Regions from separate parts of the Homo sapiens genome. Here region 2 is linked to region 1. Evidence: fine-mapped expression QTL. Tissue or cell type: pancreas. Region 1 holds a variant in brackets; the other region holds the start of a gene. All regions are shown on one strand. Distances are between the middles of the regions.

Region 1 (8,107 bases):
TGTTAAATTTTTAATTTTTTTTATTTTGACATCGAAAAATGTGTTGTTGTTGTTGTTGTTGTTGTTTTTGCTTGTTTCCACAGTTTTATTTATTAAGATGTTCCTTTATTCTTCCTGGCTTTGGCATTATGCTTTAATTGCCCTATTCTGTCATGTCCTAATGAATGTATTGTGTATCTGTAAAATGATAAGAATTAAATAAGATAATCTCTAAAGTATGTTCTATAAAGCCCATGATTTTACATGATCCAAAACCTCATTAATTCAGACAAAATCCACGGTAGCCAGTATAAATGACTGAATACAATGTTTACCAAAGTATTCATTTTAACAAAAACATTTCATCCTTTTCATATATATATGCTCTTTCATATATAAAGCATAACTATGAATTAAGCAACAAAACATTGCTACGTAGAGGTCTCATTCATTTTTTACCATTAAAAACAATCAAAATCACTCCTTCAAATATATTTATTCAACACCATACTAAAGATCTTAATTATTGCTATCCTTTCCTCAGCCCCACAAAGTCGTGGACCAAGGAGGCCATGCAACATGGACCAGGCAGGGGCATTGTTTCCATAGTAGCCAGCCCATTGGCTGGACAGCAACCTATGGCCTATATGGTTTATTAAAAAACAAAACAAAACAAAAAACTGATGAACAAAAAACTGATGAACAAGAGTTGGGCCAATCAGATTTCTTCTTTAGTTATATGTTGTTTGGAAACTGATAGAATAAACCTGTTAGCAGTAGCAGCTGCAGCAGAAGGGGCATACTAGAGAGAGCTAGACTGAGACATTAACGCTCTTTCATGTGTATGCTGCCATTTTAAAAAGTCCAGCTTCATGGACATGTGACCAGTGGTCAAATAAGGGCCTGTGTTTACAAGGACCCCATGCTTGGATTTAATGCTTTCTTTTATTTTTAAACTTGGGTTTTGTTAGTGAATTCCATGTGACAATGGAACATGCTCCTGAGGCCGGAGCCTCAGCAGCCACGGTCCTGCTTCCCGCTGCCCCCTCTTGCCTTGTGTTCTCAGAGCGCTCCCCTCCCCACCCCGCCCCCCCGCTCATTTCTTTCTACCTTCTCCTCCCCTGCCTCTCCCCACATCACCCAGCAATCAGTGTGCCATGGGGAGCTGCCCTGTGTGCTGCAGGGAGCTGGGTGCAGGCCAGAGAAGGTCAGGCTGCTGTGACCTGCGGCATCTGCACATGGGTGAGGTGGCGGCTCTCCCTGCCCTAGGCTGCCACATCACAGCTCATTTGGTAGGAGATTCAGTGGAACAAGTCTTTGGCCCTCCCCTGATCTATGTACCTAGTGCACCATGCATGGAAGTTGCTATTCCATTGGGTCCTGGGGATTGCCTGTCTGCCTTGGACTGCAGCTGTGGGCTGATGGGAAGGAGGGATGCCTGGCTTGACTTTCTCACCCCTTAGTGGGGAATGGCTTCTGTCTGGTGGCTGGCAAGAAAGGAGAACCCAGCTGTGAGTGCCAAGTCTCAGGGCCAGGCACCTAGGCACCTGTGAGGGTCTGCACCTGCCCTGTGAGTATTTCCATGCTCGAGGAAGGATAATATTGAATAGCAAATAGGTGGAGACAGAAAGAGACAGAGAGGAATAGAGAAAGAAAACTTTATAACTTTAATGGTGCCTTTTTCTGCTTTTTGAACAAGGGATGCTTCATATTCATTTTGCAGTGGCCCTAGCAAATCATTTAGGGTGTCTTGACTCTAAGCCACCAGCAGAAGTGATTCGTGGGGAAAAGAGAACAGAATAGATGTAGAGAGAGAAACTGAAATGCTACAAGAGGAAGAGGTAGCCCAGGAACCTGATGAGTTCTCAATTCCAGTCCAAGGGTGTCTTATAATCAACACTTCTTTCTTGAGGTAATGGAAGAAGTTCTCTGCATCTTGCAACCAAACAAACTTGCTTAAATGATTGAAGTAAACACTCTCTGAGAGACAGGTGCTAAAGGGGATACAGAGGTTTGCAAGTCACAGCTCTTGTCTCAGTGAGATTTCAATGAGGTATAAAAACACAATAAATAGTAATAGTAAGAGCAATAACAGGTAACCCAAAGGGCACTGATGCCATGCTAAGCACTTTGCATACATTTAATCCTCACAATAACCCAATAATCCCATGAGAAAGGAATCAATAGTTTACAAATGGGGCAACAGAGGTTTAGACAGTGCACTTGGCAGAGCTAGGACCTGCCTTGCAGCCTATAATAAATCTCAGAGTGGTATAAAACACTAACATATTAGCGAGGGTGGACAGGCTACTTCTAGCTGGGAAATTCAGGGAACACTTCTCGGATGCTGTAGCTCACCAATTGGTGGCTACTTATGGAAGGGTTACTGAATGAACAGGATTGAATAAGTGACCAAACGAAGGAATCAAATTGAATTGGATTGAAAGCAAAGATTTGACAGGCAAAAATAGAGGCAGATCATTAGTAAAAGGGCTGTGATGGAAAAGACCACAGTGAGCTTGGGCATTGGGAAATAGACCAGTTTGGTTGGAGTTGAGGTTACGTAAAGGGAGCAGGAGGCTGATGAGATGGGAAATGAAGAGACCCAGGCTGACGGTTTCATTCTATTTGGTGGGGAATCTTGAGCCACAGAACATCTATGCGCAGGGGAGCTATGATTAAAGTCATGCTTTGGAAAAGTTAACTCTGGGCCGGGTGCAGTGGCTCACGCCTGTAACCCCAACACTTTGGGAGGCTGAGACGAGTGGATCACTTGAGGCCAGGAGTTCAAGACCCAGAATGGCCCACATGGTGAAACCCCATCTCTACTAAAAATACAAAAAAAAAAAAAAAAAAAATTAGCCAGGTGTGATGGCACATGCCTGTAATCCTAGCTACCCTGGAGGCTGAGATTGGAGGATTGCTTGAACCTGGGAGGCAGAGGTTGCAGGAGATCATGCCACTGCACTCCAGCCTGGGTGACATGGCAAGATTCTGTCTCAAAAAAAAAGAAAAGAAAAGTTTACTCTGGTATTTCCGATATTGCTAATTTTTTTTTTTTCTAGGCACACAGGCTAAGCACCTGAGAGCTATCTTTTATTATTTATCCCTTACCCTCCTCACACATCTATGAAACTATTTATTCCTTTAAAGTGTGTCTCGAGGGGAGTGGGGGTCATAAAAAGAAGTTCCGGGAAAGACCTAGAAACATTGGGTTCTCCCTCCAACATACCTTATTTATACCAGTAAGAGATTTGGTAAATGTTTTCTTAGAAATTTCAGTCCAGTTCCAGCCACATTAATAGGAATTCAGTAGAATCTATCTTTTAGGGGTTTTCTGAATCTAGCTAGTCAGAATCTTAACATGAAAATAGTGATATCTCATTCATTCAATCTCCACTATTTTACAAGTTGTGATCCTTCTAACCATCTAGAAAATTTACTTTTATTTAAGCAAACTCATGCCTCATAAACTGGCATAAATTGCAAGTTTAAATGTTTTAAGGGGTATCTACCACATTTAAGAGAGTAGAATAATTTCATCTAAGTCCTACATCCTTATAAACACTATTTGTGTAAGATGGCTGATGTGTCTTCTTTATAAATCCCTAATTGTTTCATTCAAGGAGGTCCTTTCGACACCAAACAGAACTCAGTTCATGTACTTGAGTTATCGTGTGCTCTCCAAAGTCATACAATCGCATTTCTTAAACTCCTCCCCCGCCTCTGACTTCCTCCTGATTCAGACTGACCTTTACCATACATCACTGTAAAGAAATCCCCTTGGGGTGAGTTATCATGGCAAGATGCTCGTCAACTGAAAGGCGAGGTCAGTGCCTCTTTGTAAGGTCTGCTCACACTCTGAAAAGGGCTGCTGGAGGCCTGACAAGGAGGCTCGCCCAGCCCGTTCCACCCCACTGACTTCCAGGCAAGATCGCCCCAGCACACAGCTAAGTGTGTTGTTTTTACCTTCTCTCTACCTGAGA[T/A]CCTGACACCAGCCCCTGGTTTCTGCAATAGGACATGGCTTGGACTCACCCAGTTCACGTAGCAGTAATTGGGTCAGTCCTATAGTTATCAACTTATTTATAATTTCAAAAAAGGCTGCATGTCTGGCAAAGGATTCCCCATTTGCTAGGGTAGAAAAAAAGGGGGCAGCTTAAGCTCTGGGGTCTGAAGGCTGCGATAAAATTAACCAGTAGCCTGAGGGACTTCAACCATACACAGATAATTTTCTTGAGATGACAATTGTTCTAGGCTGAAATAGACAACTCGGGAAGGCTGTGGAAACTTCTGCTCTCAAGATTCAAAATATAGCACACAGCCTCACTACCTGGGCTTGTCTCTACAGGCAAAATGATCTCTGAAATCTAGCTGCAGGACTCAACGACTGGCGAATTTGTGCATGACACAATCATAATCAATGGGAAGGATTTGTTCCATTGCTCAGATAAAACCAGTTGCATTATTTCATCGCCCTACTGCATACATGGGGGAGAATGGTGCTTTTTCTGCAAAACTACTCTGCCATTTTTGGGCACAGTTTTGTTGTAAGATTGGTGTGCAATAGAATGAAGAGTAAAGAAAGGGATAAATGAACCATAATTTGTAGGCATGAGTCTGTCATTCCATTCTCCCACTAATATTATAGCTTTGGGTGTATTTGAATTACTTTTATATATGCATCTGTGTTGCTAGGCTCTTTAAAATGAGCTACCTAGAATCTTCCACAATGTTTGCAGTTAGTTTGGCACACAGTAGGTACAAAATAAATAAATTAGGCGCATGAGCAACGACTGATTTTGGTTTTTCTAATTGGGGCTTGTTTTTCTAAATGGAGATCTTAGGGCTCCGCCCATGGGTGAAGCATATCACTGCCTTTCCTTCTACATTCCAGACATGTGCCCAGAGGCCTTCCAATGAGGAGGGTAGAGTCTAAAATGAGCTCACTGGCATTAAAATCCCCTACAGCTTCTGGACATGAAACTTGGACATTTTTTACATTCCCTAGAGATACTGGCCTACATTAAAATTTCAGTCCCTTCCCGTTCCTCCTCCCTGTCACTCCAACTAAAAGAATTATCTAAACATGTCCCTCACACATTTATTACAAAATAAACTTGCCTCCTAGAGAGAGGGTAGCTTTAGGGGCTCCTGTAGCCAAGCTAATATGCCCAAAGCTAATATTAAACCAGTAACCTCGGATCTCCAACAGAATACCTAGGGGCCACCACACCTGAGACAGCTTGTTCTCTCAGCCAAGACACACACCCGGCTCTAGGTATAAAGTGAATTTCCCATGTGAAATTTTTCCTGATGCCCTGACTCCTTTGCAACCTGACCTTAAAGGAATAAGTTCAATGCTTAATTATGGATGTATTATCAGGTGTAAACAAGGAATGTAGATGATAGCTTGGCTAAGGTTAGATAAACGACTTCCCTTTTCCCTATCATTTTCTTTTTTTAAAACCTGATTGATCCAAAGATATTTATTTTTGACTGCTGTTGGGAACAGTATGCACTTACAGGCACATATGCACCTCTGGTCTATTTACACATAATTATTGTTTGAGGAATAAATGTTAAGAGAGTTTCATTGTAAGAAATCGAAACTTGAACATTTATGCCAGTAAGCAGTTAAAAAAAAAAAAACCCTGAATACAAGAGAAATTCTTTAATGAAGGAAGTCATTAGTTTTGATTTGAATTTAAATGTTGTAGCAACTTTCCTTTTGGTAACTAATAAATAATAACTTAGTTGTACGTGATGATGACCATTTTCTTTCTAAGAAAATGTTCTTTGGTAACTGGTACTAATAGAGGACAGTCTGAAAAGAAGAAATCAATCATTGGTTTCTTGAATCTAAATTTTATAGCATTGGAAAATGTTCTAAAGGAAGGATTCTTGGATGGCATGAAGTACCTGGCTCCTAGGACAGCGTATCAGAATAAGAAAGGATGGAACAGGGTTTCAGTGATCCAAGCTTCTCACTCCAGCCCTTCCTCCCTATAAGAATATCAGCTGAGGCCAGGTGTGGTGGCTCACACCTGTAATCCCAGCACTTTGGGAGGCCAAGTCGGGTGGATCCCTTGAGGTCAGGAGTTCGAGACCAGCCTGGCCAACATGGAGAAACTCTGTCTCTGCTAAAAGTACAAAAACTAGCCAGGTGTCATGGCAGGCACCTGTAATCCCAGCTACTTGAGAGGCTGTGACAGGAGAATCGCTTGAACCCAGGAGGCGGAGGTTGCGGTGAGCTGAGATCCTGTCACTGAGCTCCAGCCTGGGTGACAGAGGGAGACTCCATCTCAAAAAAAAAGAAAAAAAAGAAAAGAAAAGAAAAAAGAATATCAGCAGAGTGATCTAGTCTTACTAACACATGTAATACATGTTTGTCTTCAGGTGCGGAGGGCTGGAGATGCAGAGAACCCCAGTCAAGGTTAAATTCAGTGAACAAAAGCAATGGAGAGAGCAAAGTAGGGGATGAGAAAGCCTCAGCAGGCATTTCCCCCAGTTTCCTTGGTCAAACACTACTCACCATTTCCTTTTATAACTCTGAGCTAATTACCTTGGACTTGTTCACAGTCCCTCTATTTATGCAATCCAGAATAACGTTTGATTTATTTTATTGCTCCAGAACCTGGTGCCAAAGACATTAACATTTTATCCGCCTGTGCACTTGGATTTATCCTCTCAAATCTATTGCCCATGACCAAGGAAGATCTGTCTTGCCTCTAGATTTCTTGTCCCTAGCCTCATTACCTTATTTGTCACTACACTGAGTTGGATAATCAAATTACCTGCCTCTCTTCAGCAAGCACTTGGAGTTTTATTGTCCTTACTGGCCACCTTTGATCCTCCTTCTGCCCCCTCAGTGCTCGCTCTTCAACCCCTGCAGGGCTTCCCTTAATCTTTGGAGGAGGGCAAAAGTGCTTGACTTAGCCGCTTCACCTCTTTCCCTGTGGGCCAAATGTCACCCCCTCTCCGGATCTCAGGATCAGTAACACAACTAGTTCCCCAGGCTCATCTACAAGTGGGTCCCCCAAGCATTTGCAGAAGTTATCCCACATAATGTGATGATACAGGTTCCTAGACAATCTCCCTCTATGTAACCCACACCACTCATATCTGACTCTTTAAACATTACACAAAACACAAGAAAACCAAGCACTCTGGAAGGATTGTTCTTTACAGTGCGCACAAGCATTATGTCATTCATTTCCTCCCTACAGGTGGAATTTGATTGTCCCAATCCAAAATGACCTCCGGAGCCTCTATTTCCTGCACCCCTCAGCCCTCACAGTACCTCAGTATGTGGCTGAGTCATGCAACCATTCATGATACAGTATGTCCACTCTACCAAAATGCAAACTTGCCAAGGCAGGGCCATAGAAAATATGTTATTCATCCATGTACCTCCTAAAATATAGCATAATGCCTAGAATTAGCAGGCTTTCAATAAATATCTGTGAAAGGAAACTGAGAAGCAAAAGAGGGAGAGAAATTAAGAAGATGACTCTAGTGTTGTAAGAGCAGCAAAAAATAGCACCAACCACTTATCATGAAACTGTTTTTCCCCCAAAAGTTTGGTTTTTCAAATTCTTATTTCTTAAGTTCCTGTTATTCATTATTCACATGTGTTTGTATACGTTCTGCCTGGAATTGAATTCTCTAATGCTTTATTTCCCAAGTCTTAATTTCTGAATCTCTTGTGGTGATGTAATCGTGTTATTCGTTATTTCTTTAGTTTCTTTGGTTTCTTTTAGGAAATGCATGTCTGCTTCTAACATTTGTCCCCCATCTTCTGAGAATTCCAAGGCAAAAAAATATTTTTTTAAATAATTAAATAATTACATTATTTTTTTTAGCTACATCTACCTCTTTTTAAATTACCCTCCAATTCTTCATCATCCAACTATCGCCTTCAATGACCCCTATGTTCCTTACACACTTGAAATTTTCCCCATTATTTATCTTAACCTTCAGTGCAATCTCTTTTTCATTCACTACCTTTGCCTTCCTTATCTTTTTTTACACTCCCTGGACTTTGTTCAGTAATCTTCCCTGGCTGCCTCTGTACTCGATGCTTAATGCCTCACATATGTCTCTTTCTTACCTTTGATTACTTTTTTTT
Region 2 (8,107 bases), 330 kb before region 1:
TAATATCTGAATTATCTGACATTCTCTTTAACATGCAAAATTCTAAGGAAACTGATGACTTAAGGTTAGGAGGAAAGAATTTTCAGTAAAGAATTTCAAAGGAACACTGCAGCGTGAAGTATAAAGTGGTTAAGTGCTCTACTTTAATAAAGAAGTTATTTCGGGGAGGAGGATTCAACTTTTACTGCATCTATCTGGAGTCCAGATTCTGGACAAAGAAGTGTTTCATTACGGTAATTATCCAGATAGTTCAGACAAATCTTTTATGAGGCAGGGAGAGTGTAAGGTTGGCATGGTTTCCTGCTTGGATTATTTAGATGATCTGTCTTTGTTGATAAAATTATTTGAAGAAATTGTGCAAGCCTACACTTGACTTCTTTTAGAAAATCATCTTTGTATGGGCCTCTAATCTACTTGGGTCAACCTGGTTATGAAATTTCAAATAGGATATCATTAACAAAGAATATTTCAAATCAATCTGGAAATTAGTGATTCAAAGGGGAAAAATCAGATGGTCTGATTTAAGTAGCCCCTGAATCATTAAATTGTCCCCTTCACTACATTCAAGAATTTGTTTCTGCTAATTAGCAACTTTTTCTTCAGAGATATTGGAGATATTTCTGCTCCCTATCAGGTTAAGAAAACCTTTGATATTTATTTTGAAGAACTCACTTGACATAAGTTAATACCTAAATTAACTAAGATTGCGTTATCAGGTTTTTAAATTTCCTGTCATAATATACTTCTCAAATCATTTAAGATTTCATTTAAGATTCTCCCATCCCATCAAAAATTCCACACACTTTTCACCTGCAAAATGAACACAGAACATTTTCTGAGACATGCCTAAAATATTAATTTCTACTTGTTTAAAAAGTAACAACTTATCAGATAGGTAAATAAGACAGAGTGTGAAATAATCTTAAGAAAATACACTTTTTTCTTTTTGCAGAAAATTGAACTCTCTAAATGTCCTTTGAGAATGCACAGGCAATAAGTCTGAGAAATTCCTTATGTATATGGTTCCTTTCCAAGTTACACAGGTACTTAATTAAAATCCTATAATGATACATCATGCACAATCTATTTTCATATTATAACATCAGTCACATTTTATAATTTCTTTTGTTAATCTGAAACCTAAAACTTCTTATATTAACACTGCAAATTCAAGACAATCCCTAAAATGATATAAGACATTCATGAAAAGAGGCCTGTTTGAGTTTTAAACAAATAAAGAGGAAGTCTGGCAACTTACAGAATAAGCCAGCTTAGGTTTTAAGATAGCATGTGCTGCTTATAGAGGAATGATGCTAGGAAATGAATAAAGTGAGAACAAAGATGCATGTTATGTATGCATGACTTTTTTTTCCCACAAGGTGGTGATTAAACTAAATAGAATTCTGCATAATGGACACATAAAATATCAATAAGTGCCAAGCACAGATAACCCCTATTAAAAATAAAGCAAATGAACATAGGCATAGATGACATTTTAATTACCAAAGAACTTCAAAAGCATCCAAGGAAAGTATTGGGTGTGTGTGTGTGTGTTTGGGAGGTGGGGGGACGTTAATGTTGAAGTCTACAGAATAAATGACACATACGATCTCATTTTCATGGAAACAATAACTACCCAAACACAAAGCCAATGAGCAAAAACCATTTGCCAACCAACCTATTCCTGTGCAACTCAGTCTACAGAAGTAGTCTGTTTAAAGATAATTTTAAAAGGTCAAGTTTTAAGAAGCCAGATATAGTGCTTACATTGAATTCCCAACAACTTTCCTCACACATCAAGCCACAGTCCTTAGCTTCACCTATTTTACTATTACATATACATGTCCATGTTTTAACCCATGGACAAGTTAATGTGAATACTCTCGTTTTCCTCCCTCAACACACACAAAAAATTTCATTTTGGAAATACTCAGAAGTTCTTGCAAGAAATTCCCTGTAGAACTGACTTCTCACATCTTGCATCAGAATAGAAAAGCACAGTTACCTTCTCATGTACTTGAGATTTTCTTTCTCCATCAAATTCATATCTAGGACATTTGGCACATGTCTGGGACAATGACAGGCTCATTCTACTTTATGAGATTATTTAACATATGACTTGAAAGAGTTTATGTACATACCTATTCTTTCTGGGCAAGGAGAAAGCATGCTTAAAAAGATAAGCTTTAACAACAGTAACACTTTCAAACTGACTTTGGAATTCTTGGCAGTTACACACCACTCATTGCTATCCAAAGCATACACCACACACACACAAACACACACACACACACACACACACACACACACACACACACACGACAGTTCTCTCTCTCTCTCTCTCTCTCTGCCAAGCACAGACCTGGGAGATAGGCATAAACTGGTAGGAAGCAAAGGAAAAGTCAGTCTCCCTCCACCTGCTGCCTAAAGTGGGGGTGCTTTGGGCTGACTGGCAGACAGAAGCCTGGGACACAGCCTCAGCAGTAGACTGCCAATATCCTTAAGAAAAATAAACAAACACATACCAACTTGCCCCCACCCCCCACCCCAAGAACTCACATGGCAGGGCTCAAAAGAACAACAGCCCAATTCCCATTAGCCCAGACAATCCTATTAACCAGGACAACCATAAATTCATAAACCTCTCCAACCCTCGAGCAAGCATTGTGGTCTAGAGCTGTACAGACACACACAGACACAGAGGAAATTTGCACCTGTCTTTCTTGACACAACACACCTGTCAGGCCCTGCCCATGCGCACTCTGCTAATAGATTTCTGCCTACCTAGGTTAGGAAAGGAAATGAGTTCTTTTTTTTTTCTTTTCTTTCTTTTTTTTTTTTTTTTTAAATAAGGGAGGGCATGAGTGGAAAAGAGAACAGGAGAAGGGAGTCTTCTAGCCTTGACTTTGCGAGGAGGCCACCCTGTGCTTCCTCTGTTTTTATAAGCTCAAGGAGACAGCACAGATCTTCTCGGAAAAATAAAAACAAGCAGGTGAGTTTCCAGCCTTCCCCCAGGCAGAGTAGCCTTCTGGGTTGCCAAGAACAGCAGTTTCACACTCCAACCTGCCTCCTTGAGCTATTTAAGACTAAGCACCACCCCTCCTTCTAGTTCTGTTCTCTGTCTGCCTGGAGGGCTCTCAATTTCCCAAGAAGCTGGGAAGGGGCCAGAGACCTGGGAGTCTGTGGAAAGCTACTTACTCCTCCTTTACCATCCCCACGCTCCATCACTCCACCAACCTTCAGCTTCAGCAGGGGGAGTAACGGGCTGGCACACCAGAAGAATCAACAACTTGCTAAACTGGACTTTGGGTGATGTCTCCCCCCGCCCACTGCGTCCCCCTCCTGATCTGCTCAGGCAAGATAGCAGCTCTTCCCTCCCTCTTCCCGCCCTCCTCACTAGTCTTCCCAGTAACAATTACTCTCACCTCTCCTGTCCTCCCTCCCCAGTCCTCCTAACTGGGGCAAAACGGTAGGTACCACCCAGACGAGACCAGACCGAAGCTGCCCAACACCATAGTCTGCCAGCGATGGCTGGGAGATTCATCGCCTCCCATTTCTGCTGCCCAAGAACCCCCTACTCTTACCCGGCCCGCGATCCTCCGGTCCTCCTCGTGCTGGTGTCCCAATCCCACCGCCACGCGACCCCCCGAGCCTCCCGGTGCCGCCTTACCCTACTCAACTTGACCCAGCCCTGGGTCCAGGAGCTCGGAAGAGGGGCGCCGCGCGCGTTTCCCGGGACCCATCACCGCTCCCCTCCAAGCCGGATTTCCACAATTCGGCTTCGACAGCGTTTTGAGACGAAAGTAACAGAGCGCCCCCCCACCTCCCTCTCTCCTCCTCCCAGTTCCCGGTCCTCTGCTGGGGTTAAAAAAGGAGAAGTGAAAGGTATGCAAATGACAAGCAAATTGGAAGAGCCGGGAAGAAAGGCAGCTATAATAAACAAGACAAAGAGAAAGGACAAGGGGACCGGCCCCGGAGTTTTAGCCTGGGGAGATCGGAAGGATGGGGTTTGGCGGAAAGCGGGGATCTCCACGAACAAAAAAGCGACCCGGTCCCTCTCGCGGTCCTCTCTCCTGAGAAGAGAGAGCAGGAGAAAGAAGGAAAGGGAGCAAACGCCTCCTCACACCCCAGAAACAGTACACAAAAGGTGACAAGATCAGCGACAAGTCCAGCAACATCAGCCTCCCCCCCATCGCCACCGCCACCCCCAGCCACCAGCAGGAAAGAGAAAGAAATAAAAGCCAAGAGGATCACTTACTCTTAGGAACTGGGAGGAGCGGAGCGCTGAGTTCCACGGAGGCTCCCGCTTAGAAACTGTTTAGAGGCTATTTTATTATGATTCATTTGAATAACACCATTTTCTCCTGGGGGGAATAATGTTTACACGGGTCTGAGTAATGGGAGGCTCTTTTCTTCCTTTCTCATTCAAGAACAAGACAGTGCAAGTGATTCTGGAAAAGGGGAGGGACTCACGAGGGGAAGAAGAAGATACTTACGCGGTGCAGGGAGCAGTGGGACCGAGCCTCTCTCTCTCTCTCTCTCTCTCTCTCTCTATCTCTCTCTCTCTCTTTTTTTTCCCCCGGCAGAGAGAGGAAAACACGCGAGTGCACACACGGTGATATCTTGCGGGTGATGAATATGATAATTGGACAAGGGACGGTGAGTCTGTGCGACAGCGAGCGAGCGAGCGGGGCGAGTGGGAGAGGGAGAGGGGAGAGAGAGGCGGGAGGGGAGGGGAGACGAGAGAAGAGGAGCAGGGGAGAGGCGAGGAGAGGGAAGAAGAGGAGAAGAAAAGAAGAGGAGCTAAGGGAAGAGGAGAGAGCAGGAGAGGAGGAGAGAGAAGAGCGGGAGGAGAGGAGAGAGCAGCAGAGGAGGAGAGAGGAGAAGGGTAAAGAAGAGAAGAGGAGCGAAGCGGAGAGGGAGCAGGCGGACCCGGCGAGAGCTCTTTTGCGCCGCTCTGCTTTCCCCGGCTGCAATGGTGTATTATTTCAGAGCGCTCCCTCAGCTGAGGGCTCCGCTCCACAACAAGATTTACTTTAAGACACAGCTGAAGGAAACAGGAAGACTGCACGTCACAGTCTATCTGACGTACCCGGCCCCAGCACCCAATCGCGAGGCGCCTTCGGATTCAAGGGGGGATAGCAAGGCAAGAGAACTTGGGAGGAAAAAAAAATATAAAAGGGGTGGGGGTGAGGGGCTGGGAAGAGAGGAGGGGAGAGGGGCCCTGCGCTCCCCCTCCCCGGCCTCCATCCCCGGCCCCCACCCCCACCCCCACCCTGCCACAGCTTCGGGACGACTGGATCGCCGCGCCTGGGCCGGAGCGAGCCATCTGCGGGCACTATGCAAAGCGGGAGACGGCGCGAGCGGCGCCCGGCTCACACTAGCTCTTCCAGGACGCAGGTCTTTTTTTTTTTTTTTCTTTTTCTTTTTTCATTTCCCAGATACAGCTGATCGAGTTCGCCGAGTGGCCGAGCGAGTGAGCGCTCCTCCGACTTGGGTGGAGGAAGGCACGGAAAAGTATACGGGAGAAAAAGTGGGGGTTTTAGGGGTGGGGGTGGCATAGGAGGAGGGAGGGGGGGATCTGCAAATCATTCCACTTTTTAAACGATCATAGGTAGTGTCAAGGATACGTGTCACCCTTGGTTCCTTTTAAAGGGGAGGTGGACAATAAAATACAGGTAGGTTTGGTATTAAAATAATAGGTGCCAGAGGTTTCACATCGGGTCCGCTGCATCTGTTATTAGACGAAGATCAACATTGGCTGAGTCCCAGTTTATCTCCAGTCCAAATTATCAGGAAGAGGAATATTTACCCTTGGTTACCTCTGACATTAGTTGGATTGTAGGTAAAGCAGCCTTTAAAAATATATATGTTGCAAACATCTGGCGATTACCCTTCACTAATTCACTCGCCCCAGAAAGACCAAAGATAGCTGTTCAATACAGGATTTACACAGTTTTGACGCCTGGGCAACAAACTTTAAAGTTTATTAGGCAAGAAATTTCAAACGCATAAATCGCAGGCTCTAAAATAAAGCCCTAGAAAATTTACTTTGGTTTGACATTTCTTGCTTGAAAAATAACCAGCAAAATTTCTTTAGATAATGTGGCTCTTAAAGATCTCCTTGGGCTTTGCAAGTTACAAATGCAAGCGAGCCTCAGCCGCAGCTAGAACGTCCCTTTCACCGGGCACAGTAAACGGCTTTTAATAAAGCAGCCGCGTTTATGACCTAAAGATCCTATAAAAGCTGGGACTTGCAAGAGCTGCGAAGCAGAAACATTCATACATAGTCTATTAGACACTCATTTTTGTAAGTAGGAGGAGGACAAGTAGTCTTCGTGTGTCCCTCAAATTTAATCAGATCAAAGGTTGAATCATGCTGTGTCGTGACAACAGGGTATTTATGAGGTGTGTTACAAGTACACTGGCCAAACACTACCAATGTCTTCTGCGACACACACACACACACACTCCTTCCTAGGGAATTTACAATTTCAGCCTCAAATTCACCAAACCGTAAAGAGGATATTAAGCCCTCCCTTTGAATAAGAATAGCGATGTTAGTATGTCCGAGTCTATCCCGGCAGGAAACTTTTGGCACGAATTTCAAACAGTGAAAAGGAGAAAAAAAATTAGGTCGGTCAGGTTAGGTGTCGGCGATAAGAAAAGAGATTGCGGGAGCATCCCCAGCCTTCTTCTTTCCCCTTTTGCCGCCCCCACACACTCCCCCCACGCGTCTATCACGGAAGCAACACAGAGGAGCGCACACGCACCACTCACACCTCCAACTATTGACTGTTGTATCAGGTGTTCTAACCGGGATGTGACAGTTGAGGCTGGGAGCAGAAATAATCAACATGCCCATTAGATACAGGACGGAATAATGCTTCTATTGGTTGGGTCCCTTCGAGGTAAGCGGGTGTATTGAGCGGGGAAACTTGGGATCTGAGAATGGATCAAAGCTACTTTCTTTCTTATTTTTCGTCCTACTAGTTTTCTTTAAGAATCTTGGTTTGTACATATAAGTTAGCGCCAGCCCACAAATAAACTGGTAGGAGTAAGGGCTATATACCTTTCCACACCTTAAAACCATCTGCTCAGTTTGACATTTAAAAGGGCGGAGAGCAGAGAAGGAGGAGGGGGGAGTAGGGGGAAGAAAGGAGTCAGGGACAGAGAAAAAGATTCAAACGCGAAAAAAATGGCTTGCACTTTAGCCCACAAGTTTGTGTCAATTGCACATAGCGCTTGAATGCACGTTTTGCACACACCACGCCCGGGAACTGGCGGCGGGAAAAGTTCCCTGAGAACCCCAGTAAGTCCTGTGTCACGCCGTGGGCAAAAGCAGGCCTGAGTCGAAGTCGGGGTAACCCGCTTGCCGAACAAGGAAGCTCTCCCACCCCCAGCCTCGGCGGCAGAGGCTCCCGGCTCGCGACGCTCTGCCGCGGCGGTTCGCAGCCCGCATTAGGGCGCAGGAGCGGCGACTTGAAATAGGAGCGCGCGCCACGCTAGGCGAGCGAGATCGGTTCGCAGCCCAGCTCCGTGAGCTGCCTCGGCGCAGCCCTGTCCCGTGTCCTGTCCTCTACTGTCGGGGAGGCGTACAGGCCAGGCTCCTGGCAACCTCTCTTGCTAGAGCTGCGGCATTCTCCTGGGTCTCGGGCTGCCCTGGACAAGACTTGAGGCCCGAGCCCCCTATCTCGGGCGACTCCCGCTTTGTTTTCTGATAGGGGAGAAGCCTGGAGACAAGGAGTCGCCTAGATATTGGCTCCATCTCTGAAACCAGCCGCCAAGCCTAGGGTTAAGACAACTCCTCCCTCCGCCCCACTTCCAACACAACCCCAGTAACTTAGAAGTTAACGCAAGTTCTGACCGGTCTTGTAACACACTCTATCCGTGCAGGTTGCATTTACTTATTTATCTGAAGGGTGATCTGTGTGTTCTTAGACAAACTCGCAGTTATCACCCATGCATCTGGTTCTGGGTTAAATACACTTCGCCTTGACATTTGCTCGGTGTATGCTCACGCCTCCTGTTCTTTCTTAAAGCTGTTAGGTGGGGGCAGGAGGGAAGACAGTGTGTATAAGTAATTTAAAACCTTACAAACAACTGT

Alleles and levels. Alleles are on the strand shown, and positions count from the first base shown. SD is a standard deviation of normalised expression in the study named.
For the expression in pancreas of the gene that starts at base 5,007 in region 2, T is the low allele of the variant in region 1 and A is the other (small effect, 0.34 SD a copy in GTEx).

Evidence for each region. PIP is the estimated chance that this variant, and not a neighbour inherited with it, causes the effect.
Region 2: it holds the start of PROX1, and the variant in region 1 is fine-mapped to the expression of PROX1 in pancreas (GTEx, PIP 0.95).

What each region holds. Positions count from the first base shown.
Region 1 is chr1:213,657,159-213,665,265 of GRCh38, reverse strand. It overlaps a transcript of RPS6KC1 not described here. Among named protein-coding and RNA genes, the nearest start is that of LINC00538, 260 kb to the left of the region's middle. The variant T/A (reference allele first, on the strand shown) is at 3,966.
Region 2 is chr1:213,984,873-213,992,979 of GRCh38, reverse strand. PROX1 (prospero homeobox 1) reads right to left here and starts at 5,007. Exons shown (of 5, transcript NM_001270616.2): 1 at 4,497-5,007. PROX1-AS1 (PROX1 antisense RNA 1) reads left to right here and starts at 6,827. Exons shown (of 6, transcript NR_037850.2): 1 at 6,827-6,911. RefSeq lists enhancers at 3,623-4,126, 4,127-4,630.